Linked DNA regions of Homo sapiens: region 1 is linked to region 2. Evidence: fine-mapped expression QTL. A gene starts in region 2. The other region holds a variant in brackets. All regions are shown on one strand. Distances are from middle to middle. Region 1 overlaps SPNS3 (SPNS lysolipid transporter 3, sphingosine-1-phosphate (putative)). Region 2 holds the start of GGT6 (gamma-glutamyltransferase 6).

Region 1 (5,472 bases), 70 kb after region 2:
GCTGGGATTACAGGCATGAACCACCGCGCCCAGCCTGTCATCTTGTTTTAATTCCTGTTTTGTTTTGGTGCTGAGACTTCCTTCCTCTTCCTAACGGCACACTGGTCTGCTGGTCTTAATGCGGCTATAAACCAAGGCATGGGTATAGGATCCAAGCTAACCCAACTGGAATCTCTTGCCCAGGGCTTTAAATCTTGAGGAGGGTGGCAAAAGAATAGGGATAAAATATCTGGAGTTCTGGCACAGACCCCAAAATAATATGGCCCAGGAACCCTGGCTCCTGAATCTCCAACCTTCTCATCAATTCTATGAGTTCCTGATGTGCTTTCAATGCATCCTTTGCCTGGTAGAGGTAGTCAGTCTGTTTCCGTTGCATACAACCCCACAACCCAAACTGATATGGTCACACAGGAGCACACGCAGTCACACACCTGTCTGTGCTGAGATAAAGCATGGCTCCCGGAACCTCCAGCTGCCTGCTGCCAGCTTTGTCTGTAGAGGCTGCATTAGATTAAACAACCTCCCAAGCCCACCCAGGCACAAAGCAAAGTCAAACACTTCAGGGAATGAAACAGACCAATATTTGATGTTGCAGAGCAACAAGCCAGGGTTAGGGTGTGGGAATCCAGACACACAGGTTCAACCCCCTCAACCTTCAGGACAAAGTGGAAAAAGAGCTTTTAGGCCAGGCGCATTGGCTCACACCTGTAATTGTAGTACTTTGGGAGGCTGAGGCGGGTGGATTGCCTGAGCTCAAGAGTTCGAGACCATCCTGGCCAACATGGCAAAACCCTGTCTCTACTAAAAATATGAAAAATTAAGGCTGGGTGCGGTGGCTCAAGCCTTAATCCCAGCACTTTGGGAGGCCGAGGCAGGCAGATCCCCTGAGGTCGGGAGCTTGAGACCAGCCTGACCAACATGGAGAAACCCCGTCTTTACTAAAAATACAAAATTAGCCGGGCGTGGTGGATGCCTGTAATCCCAACTGCTTGGGAGGCCGAGGAAGGAGAATCGCTTGAACCCGGGAGGCGGAGGTTGCAGTGAGCTGAGATTGCACCATTGCACTCCAACCTGGGCAACAAGAGCAAAACTCCGTCTCAAAAAAAAAAAAAAAGCTTTACTAATACCTGTTGGTATTGGTTCCAATAGCTAGCATACCCCCATGTGGCCACACGCCAACATGGTGATGCACACACAGGTACAGGCACACGCACACAGAGATACCTCCATGCCTGGATAATACCTGACAGCTGGAATGCAGCTTATGTCTGGAAAGAGCAATTAACACATAAAGAGAGTCAGGTCAGGCTTAAGGACTCATCCTGCTGAACAGCATTTTTCCTCCTCTTGACATTCCCAACAAACAAGTCCAGAGTATTCGTGGCTGAGATTACCCAACAAGGGCCTTTAGGCGAGGAAGATGTGTTCTGTTTACCAGACTCCACTCCAGCCTGAGTGGCTGGGTTCCCCCAGGCTGTTATCGTAACCTCGACCCACCAGGACTGGCCCCAAAGAGGCAGGAGGTGGGAGTCTGGGTTGGCTGCAGAGGAGATATTGGTCTCTGTCACTTGCCGCGTCCACCAGCCCCAGAGCTCCCACTCTGCCCCAAACCACTTTAGACAATAGCTTCCTATAAACTCCCAGCTGGGCACCTCGTGTGGCTCAGCCTTGGGAAGTACCGCCTTGCCCTGCCCAGCAACCCAAATATCAGAATGCACTTGAGTCATAAGAAACTACCCTGGATTATAGGATTAAAGCCCCAGCTCCTGGACCTACATCTGACGCCCCTCTGATCCCAGATGGCCTCTCTCACCTCCTCTCCCCGCTCAATGACACACGCACCCTCCTCTCTGGCCATACCACACCCCTCCATGACTCACTGCAAATCTTCTGCCCCACTCTCCCCCTCTTTGTGGGTCCATCCCCTGCATCTAGAATTCCCTTTGCCCCCCACCTTGTTACCAACTCCAAAGCCACTTCCTTGAAGGCTTCTGGGGCACGGAAGCCCTTACTCTGCCCATAGGTGTGCCACACTTGCCTGTCCTGCTGTGGGCTGCGAGGTCCAAGGGCAGGGCTGGAGTCTGATTCACTGCTGGACACCCTGATGGGCACCCGCCGATACCAATGCATGTTTGTAGAGTTGGCATGAACGAGGTTCTTGCTCTTCCTCTACTGGACTCTGGGTGGGGAGGTGGCAGCTGGTGTTCTTTTTTTTTTTTTTTTTTAAGACAAAGTCTCACTGTGTCACTCAGGTTGGAGTGCAGTGGTGCCATCTCCCTTCACGACGAACTCCACCCCCCATCCCCAGGATCAAGCGATCCTCCCACCTCAGCCTCCCAGAGCTGGGACCACAGATGCGTGCCACCACGCCCAGGTATGTTTTGGTATTTTTGGTAGAGACGGGGTTTCACCATGTTGCCCAGGCTGGTCTTGAACTCCTGACCTCAAGCAATACATCAGCCTCTGCCTCCCAAAGTGTTGGGATTACAGGCGTGAGCCGCTGTGCCCAGCTGAGTGTTCTGACCCTTGGGCGGCCCTCACTCATTTTCCGGGAGCCTCGCCTTGCAGGGGTCCTCCCTGGGGCTGTTGGGAGGAAGGTTCAGACCCTGGAGCTGGGCTTCTGTGGGTCTAGACCCAGCCTGTGCTAATCACATGAGGCCCAGGCTAGAAAGCCATGTCAACACACCTCTCAAACACAGCCAGGGAGTCAGGGAGCCACCTAGGTCACACAGCCAGTGAATGTTGAGAGGGACCGTGGCATCCTGGCTCCTGCCCAGTTGCTGCCTCCTTCTCAGGAAAAACAAAATATCCTCACAGATCTTTTACCTTGTAACTTGAAGGGCTGCCTGTTGCATAAGCTCCAAGCATT[G/C]AGTCACGGTCAAGGGCCTGGCTAGCCTGCAGGGAGGGCTGGCTGTGGTGCGGCCCTGCTCCTGGGGCTTGTTGCAGCCAACAGGGAGGGCTGGGGGGCACCCCACAGAAGGCAGGGACAGAGCAGCAAGCATCAGGGGCTGCGCAGGAGTCTCGGTCGTTGCTCTGCCTGCAGCTGCTGGGAGACAGGCACAGCCTGGCACAGCGAAGGTGGCCATCGGTGAGTGAGCAAGTGATCGCCTGGCTGGGCACCAGGGGAGGCGGAAAGAACATGAGAACAAGCCTCCCCACTGCTGCCCGCCTGGAAGCTGTCGATCTCCCACAGGGCCCGCTGAGCCCAGCTGCTCTGAACCCAGTGGCAAGCGTGGGCCCCGCAGAGCCAGCCCTCCCCATACGCTGTGCTGGGGTCAGAGCGTGGACCCAGGGAAGACCGGGGCTACAGAACTGGGCAGGCCAGGAGGATCCCTGCACGGCCACTCAAGTCCTCAGCAGGGTTCTGGGGCCGCTGCGCCCGTGTCTGTATAGGCGTGGGTTCCTCTGCGTGGTTCCCTGGAACTTGGAGCCACATCCCCACCCCAGCACCCAAGTGGAAACTCATCTCCAAGAGCAAGATTCAGCCCCCACGTTTTGTTCAAAGGGTGGAGTTGGCTGGGCACGGTGGCTCATGCCTATAATCTCAGCACTTCGGAAGGCCGAGGCTGGCGGATCACCTAAGGTCAGGAGGTCAAGACCAGCCTGGCCAACATGGTGAAACCCTGTCTCTACTAAAAATACAAAAATTAGTTGGGCGTGGTGGCACATGCCTGTAATCCCAGCTACTTAGGAGGCTGAGGCAGAAGAATCTCTTGAACCTGGGAGGCGGAGGTTGCAATGAGCCGAGATTGCGCCACTGCACTCCAGCCTGGACAAGAGCTAAACTCCATCTCAAAAACAAAACAAAACAAAGAGTGGAATCACGTAGAGGGTGTCCTGTGCCTGTGACTTTGCAGAATGGAGAAGCTGGGTCAGAGTGGGAGGTCCAGGCTGCGGACCCCTAGAGACCCATGCTGAGCCAGCCCCCCAGCTTCCCCACTTCAGGACAGCCCTGCATCCTTGGCCTGGACTGCCCATCCCGTCCTCACCCACTTCCCCTCCAGCAGAGGCACGAGAGGCTATAAATAACACGGCTGTCTACAGGCCCAAAATCCATGGGCTTTGTACTGGCCTCTCTTTATTCAGGGCCCAGCAGCAGCCAGGCTGGAGACCCCAGGCTGGGGCAGCCTTGAGCGGGATGCAGGCACAGGCCCAGGCCTCCCACGCAGAGTGCTGACAGCTCCATTCCCAGCCCAGCCACAGGGTCCTGCCAGCTCTCCAGCCGGGAATTCAAAAGTGGCAGATGTGCCTCAGCCGGAGTCCCCGAGGACAGCCAAAGAGGAACCGAGGCACTGCTGCTGTGGGGACCAACGGGAGGCTTGCAGGCAGGACGAGTGTAGGCAGGGACCTCAGGGCTCCTCTGTAGAGGCGCCAGCGCCCGAAAGTAGGCCTTGTCTCTCCAGGTCGTTGCTGTCCACATCATTGCTGTCTGGGGTCCCTGCAGGAGGAAAGATGCTCAGCCTGCCCGAAGGTTGCAGAAGGTGCTTTGGGACCAGGCCTGGGCCTGGGCACGGGCTGTCAGGAAATCCTCTCTGTCCCAAATGCAGAATACATTCCAGATCCAACCCCTTGTCATCACCTTCAATGCCACTGGCGTGGTCTAGGCACCACTCTCCCCTGGAAGGGGAGTCGGCTATGCCTCTCGGCCTCAACACTGACCCTCCTACAGTCTGTTCTCAACACAGCAGCCAGGGAGATGCTTTGGCAACATCAATCAGACCACCTCGGTGCTCCTCTCCTGGAAGCCCCACAGCAGCTCCCGTCTCACTCTGAGCAAAAGCCACTGTCTTTACAAGGACTGCCTGCTCTGGCCCCGTATCCCTCACCCCTACCACTGTCCCTCTTGCTTCTGCTGCAGCCACACTGGCCTCCTTGCTGATCCTCAAACATATCAGGTGCATTCCCATGGCAGGGCCTTTGCATTGATTGTCCCCACTGCCGGAAGCGTCTTTCCCCAGGTCGCTGAACGGCTCACTCCCTCGTTTCCTCCAGATCTTTGCTCTAGTTTCGCCTGTGCAGTGGGGATCCTTGCAGCCTGCACCTACCTGTCCCTTTTTTTTTTTTTTTTTTTTTTTTGAGACAGTCTTGCTGTCGCCCAGGCTGGAGTGCAGTGGCGAGATCTCAGCTCACTATAGCCTCCGCCTCCCGGGTTCAAGTGATTCTCCTGCCTCAGCCTCCTGAGTAGCTGGGACTACAGGTGTGTGCCACCGCACCTGGCTAATTTTTATATTTTTAGTAGAGACAGGGCTTCACCATGTTGCCCAGGCTGGTCTTGAACTCCTAACCTTGTAATCCGCCCGCCTTGGCCTCCCCAAGTACTGGGATTACAGGTGTGAGCCACCGCGCCCGGCCCCTTTCTCCTTCCTTTCCTGCTTTATACCTCTCCATAGCACTCGTCACCCTGAACATGCTATATCTTTAACCTTTTCTGTTTCTGGTCTGTCTTCACCAACTACAGTGTCAGTTTCTACA
Region 2 (5,204 bases):
TTTTCCCAGGAAGGAAGGATGGACCTTCATTCTGAGATTCTAACCTTCTTACCCTGTGTTAACAGAAAGTGAAACCAAATTATTTTATGACATAAATGTCATAAAATCATAAAAATGGTCATTTTGATTCCCATCTCCCCACCATTGGCAAAATTAGAAGGTGGCAACCCTAGGCTGCTCTATTTGGTTGGTTGGTTGGTTTTTTATTGGCCCAAGAAAAAAAAAAAAGGAAACCAAAGGTTTCTCTGGGGAACTAGAGACAGAAACCAGCTAAGGGAAGAAACAGGAGAGAAAGAAGTGAACACAGCAGGTGTACACTTTTTTTTTAGACTGAAGGTGTGGTTCCAGGACTGTGGCAATTGGGATAGCACATTCTAGACCCTACACCTGAAGCCAGACTTTCTAGGAGAGGAGCCTAGCGATCTGACTTAACAAGCTCCTCAGGTGATCGTGATGCACACCAATCTTAAAGAACCCGTGTACTTGCTCGTGAAGAGGCCATGAGAAAGGGAAGCAGCTGGAGAGCCAGATGGGATGATGGATGATTCAAAGGATGATTTTTATGGTTGTTGTTTTAATGTAGAAAATACCTGAGCTTTTCCATTTTTACTTTTTTATTGAAAGACAATATTCACATAGAAAAGTACACGTCATCAATGCCCAACTCAATGCATTTTCACACCCAGGGCACTCGTGTCACCAACACTCAGATTAAGAAACAACATCTCGGCCGGGCGCGGTGGCTCACACCCGTAATCCTAGTACTTTTGGGAGGCTGAGGCGGGCGGATCACCTGAGGTCAAGAGTTCAAGACCAGGCTGGCCAACATGGTGAAACCCTGTCTCTACTAAAAATACAAAAAATTAGCCAGGCGTGGTGGCATGTGCCTGTAATCCCAGCTACTCGGGAGGCTGAGGCAGAAGAATTGCTTGAACCCAGGAGGTGGAAGTTGCAGTGAGCTGAGATTGCACCATTGCACTCCAGCCTGGGCAACAAGAATGAAAACTCTGTCAAGAAAGAAAGAAGAGAAAGAAAAGAAAGGTAAAGGAAAAAGGAAAGGAAAGAAAGGAAGGAAAGAAAGGACATCTCCAGCATTCCAGAAACCCCCTGGTACCTCCTCCAGTCACTATCTGACTTCTAAGGGCAGACTGTTGTTGCTCTTTTGTTGTTGCCTGTTTGTGTACTTTGTGTAAATGAAAGCATATAGCGTGCGCTGTCTCCTGCCTGGCTGCTTTCCCTCGTCCTTATGCTTGTCAGACCTGTGTATATTATTGCATATAATTGTAGATCACTCACTCTCTTTGCTGCAGAGTGGTCCATTGTGACTTACATCATTCATTCTAACGATAATGGATGTTTGGGCACTTTCCAATTTGGGACTGTTACAAACAGCACTGTTTTGCAACAAGTCCTTGATGGGAATCCCAGAATGAATTTAGAAATGTTGGTTTCCAGGCTGTGGCGCTACCTTCTGGACAAGAGTCGCAAAACACGCACAGGGAGTTACGAACCAAGTTGCTCCTCAAAGAAACCCAGACCCAGAGTAGCCACAGGCTGAGCCTTGACCCCGGCCAGAGACCAGACACCCCTACGCCAGAACCTAGTCACGTGCAGACTCAAGCACGTGGGAGCTCTGACCCAAGCCACCGTGAAACCGTAGCTCTAATTCAAGTCCACAGTCCCTAGAGTCCCAGGTGGGTGGGATCCATGGGCTACATCCCCCAAGGGGAGGAGCCCAGCAGGTGCCCTGAGTATCAAGGTTGTGGCATTAAGGCTGAACTCCTTCTCGACCTCACTGAGCTGTGGCCCCTTACAGGCAGTCACCCCGGGAACCCTGTCGCGAGAGCTCCTCGGGCCTTGTGTCCTAATGGGGCAGGCTCACATGCAGCCTCCTTGGCCCCGTGCCCTGCCCAGACCTGTTCTGGATTCCACCCCCACCCTTCCCCAAGGTCGCTGCCACCTCCCACCTGCCAGGCTTGGGCAGGGCCTCTGAGACACAGCCGGAAAGGCTGGCAGGCAGGAGGGCTGGGGCGAGCACTGGGGGGCCATGGAGCGGGCAGAAGAGCCCGTGGTCTATCAGAAGCTGCTGCCCTGGGAGCCAAGCTTGGAGTCGGAGGAGGAAGTGGAGGAGGAGGAGACATCAGAGGCGCTGGTTCTAAACCCCCGGAGGCACCAGGACTCTTCCAGGTAAGTAAGGGAGGGGTCTGGGCACCAGGCTCCCCAGGCTTGAGGTTGGCAAGTCCCTCTCTCTGGAGCCCCTCAGGGGGACCAGGCGACTCCCCGCTGGGTTTAGCTCCAGGCACTGTACGGTCAATTTGGGGGAAAACCCAGGCTGTAGCCCGAGACTTGGCCTGACCCAATCAAAAGTCTGTGCATCTGGAGGGACATTTGTACCAAGCCAGCCTCTGTCCCATCTGCTGCTTTGTCAAAGGTCCCCAGCCCCCAAGTCCTGGTGCAGGAGGCACCTGCTGGGCAGGTTGGGGCCTGACTACGCCTGGCTGGGCCTGCTCCCCAGCCCCTTCTCTCCTGCCTGCCACACCCCACTGGGCCTCCCTCCCACCTGAGTGGACTCTGCCCCACCAATCTCCCCTCCAGAGGCTCCCTCCCTAGCTAGGCTCAGTTTCCCCAGATGCTTTCCCATCCCCATGTCTGCCCAAGATGCACCCGCTGCCAAGAAGCCCTTTCTCCTTGGCTGACTTGTGCTCCTCTTGCTAAATCAAACCTTTTGGGAAATATTCCCTGGGGTCTCTTGGGGTCCTTGGGCATCCCTCTGTCCCAGCCGTGGCTCAGGACACCCCCCCTCTGCAGGAACAAGGCTGGCGGGCTGCCCGGAACCTGGGCCCGTGTAGTGGCAGCCCTGCTGCTGCTGGCTGTTGGCTGCTCCCTGGCTGTGAGGCAGCTCCAGAATCAGGGCAGGTCGACAGGAAGCTTGGGCTCTGTGGCCCCTCCACCCGGCGGACACTCCCACGGCCCTGGCGTATACCACCACGGTGCCATCATCAGCCCTGCAGGTCAGTCAGTGCTGGGGGCGGCTTGGGGAGGGGAGGGTCAGGGGTCACCAGCCCAGCCTAGCCCCCCTCCTTGCTGCATGACAGTGCCTTCCTTGCTGCAGCCACATGCTCCCACCTAGGCCGAGAGCTGCTTGTTGCCGGGGGCAACGTCGTGGATGCTGGAGTTGGAGCTGCATTGTGCCTGGCAGTGGTGCATCCTCATGCCACGGGGCTAGGTCAGTGACCCCTGACCCCAGACTGCAACCCCAACCCACAGCCTGATCAGTGACCTGGAACTTAGGGAGTCAGTAGCACTGACCTCAAGACTGCTAAGTGAGCAGGACTTAGGGTTTGGGCAGCAGTCCAACCCCAGGCTATGACCCTTGAGCCCGGGTCTGTGGAACTTTGACCTCAGGCCTGGTCAGTAACTCCTGATCCCAGGCTCAGTCAAGGGATCTTGACTGAAACAAGTCAGTGACCCTTGACCTGCGGCTGCTGAGGGACCCCTCTGTCTCCTGCAGGTGCCATGTTTTGGGGCCTCTTCCACGATAGCTCCTCAGGCAATTCCACGGCCCTGACATCAGGCCCAGCACAGACCCTGGCCCCCGGCCTGGGGCTGCCCGCGGCTCTGCCCACCCTGCACCTGCTGCATGCACGCTTCGGCCGCCTGCCCTGGCCACGCCTGCTAGTGGGCCCCACCACGCTGGCTCAGGAGGGCTTCCTGGTGGACACACCCCTGGCAAGGGCTCTGGTGGCTCGGGGCACAGAAGGCCTCTGTCCACTACTTTGCCATGCTGATGGGACACCCCTGGGCGCTGGGGCCCGAGCCACCAACCCACAACTGGCAGCTGTGCTTCGCAGCGCAGCCCTCGCTCCCACCTCAGACCTTGCTGGGGATGCTCTACTGAGTCTACTGGCGGGAGACCTGGGGGTGGAGGTGCCCTCGGCTGTGCCCAGGCCCACTTTGGAACCAGCAGAGCAGCTACCTGTGCCCCAGGGCATCCTGTTCACCACCCCCAGTCCCTCAGCTGGCCCAGAACTGCTGGCACTGTTGGAGGCAGCCCTGCGCTCCGGGGCGCCCATCCCTGACCCCTGCCCACCGTTCCTGCAGACTGCTGTGAGCCCCGAGAGCAGTGCCCTGGCCGCCGTGGACAGCAGCGGCTCTGTGCTCCTTCTCACCTCCTCGCTCAACTGCTCCTTTGGCTCTGCACACCTGTCCCCAAGCACTGGGGTTCTGCTCAGCAACCTGGTGGCCAAGTCTACCACTAGTGCCTGGGCCTGCCCCCTCATCCTCCGTGGCAGCCTGGATGACACAGAGGCTGATGTGTTGGGGCTTGTGGCTTCAGGGACCCCTGATGTGGCCAGGGCCATGACTCACACCCTACTCAGGCATCTGGCAGCAAGGCCCCCTACCCAGGCCCAGCACCAGCATCAGGGTCAGCAAGAACCAACAGAGCATCCCAGCACTTGTGGCCAAGGGACCCTGCTCCAGGTGGCAGCCCACACAGAGCACGCCCATGTCTCCAGTGTCCCCCATGCCTGCTGCCCCTTCCAGGGGTTCTAACAGGATGGGGGTGGGTCTGGCAGAAGGCAGAGTTATCTGAAGCATGGGGGCAGGAGCAGAGCAGACACAGCAGCAATGGAGTGTGCACCCGCAGGGTGTGGTGCCTCACACCTGTAATCTCAGCACTTTGGGTGGTCAAGGCAGGAAGATACCTCGAGGCCAGGAGTTTGAAACTAGCCTAGACAACAAAGCAAGATCTCATCTGTACTAAAAATTTAAAAATTTGCCAGGGGCGGTGGCACATGCCTGTTGTCCCAGCTGCTTGGGAGGCTGAGGCAGGAAGCTCGCTTGAGCTCAGGAGTTCAAGGCTGCAGAGAGCTAGGATCACACCACTGCACTCCAGCCTGGACAACAGAGTGAGAACCTGTCTTTAAAATAATAATAATAATAATAAAAAAATAGCTGGGTGCGGTGGCTCATGCCTGTAATCCCAGCACTTTGGGAGGCCAAGGCAGGTGGATCACCTGAGGCTAGGAGTTCGAGACCAGCTTGGGCAACATGGCGAAACCCCGTCTCTACTAAAAATACAAAAAATTAGCTGGGCATGGTGGCGGGCACCTGTAATCCCAGCTACTTGGGAGGCTGAGGCAGGAGAATCACTTGAACCCGAGAGGTGGAGGTTGCAGTGAACCAAGATCGCACCATTGCAA

What was found. PIP is the estimated chance that this variant, and not a neighbour inherited with it, causes the effect. A credible set is the group of variants that fine-mapping cannot tell apart.
Region 1: its variant is the best candidate, but not a certain one, in a credible set for the expression of GGT6 in thyroid (GTEx, PIP 0.90).

What each region holds. Positions count from the first base shown.
Region 1 is chr17:4,486,772-4,492,243 of GRCh38, reverse strand. SPNS3 (SPNS lysolipid transporter 3, sphingosine-1-phosphate (putative)) reads right to left here. Exons shown (of 12, transcript NM_182538.5): 12 at 4,040-4,438. The coding sequence ends at 4,350. SPNS2-AS1 (SPNS2 antisense RNA 1) reads left to right here. Exons shown (of 3, transcript XR_001752763.2): 3 at 2,253-2,371. Among named protein-coding and RNA genes, the nearest start is that of SPNS2-AS1, 9.2 kb to the left of the region's middle. RefSeq lists enhancers at 1,583-2,083, 1,394-2,593. The variant G/C (reference allele first, on the strand shown) is at 2,870.
Region 2 is chr17:4,557,365-4,562,568 of GRCh38, reverse strand. GGT6 (gamma-glutamyltransferase 6) reads left to right here and starts at 1,992. Exons shown (of 4, transcript NM_001288702.2): 1 at 1,992-2,187; 2 at 2,809-3,011; 3 at 3,113-3,226; 4 at 3,512-5,204. The coding sequence starts at 2,048. The coding sequence ends at 4,554.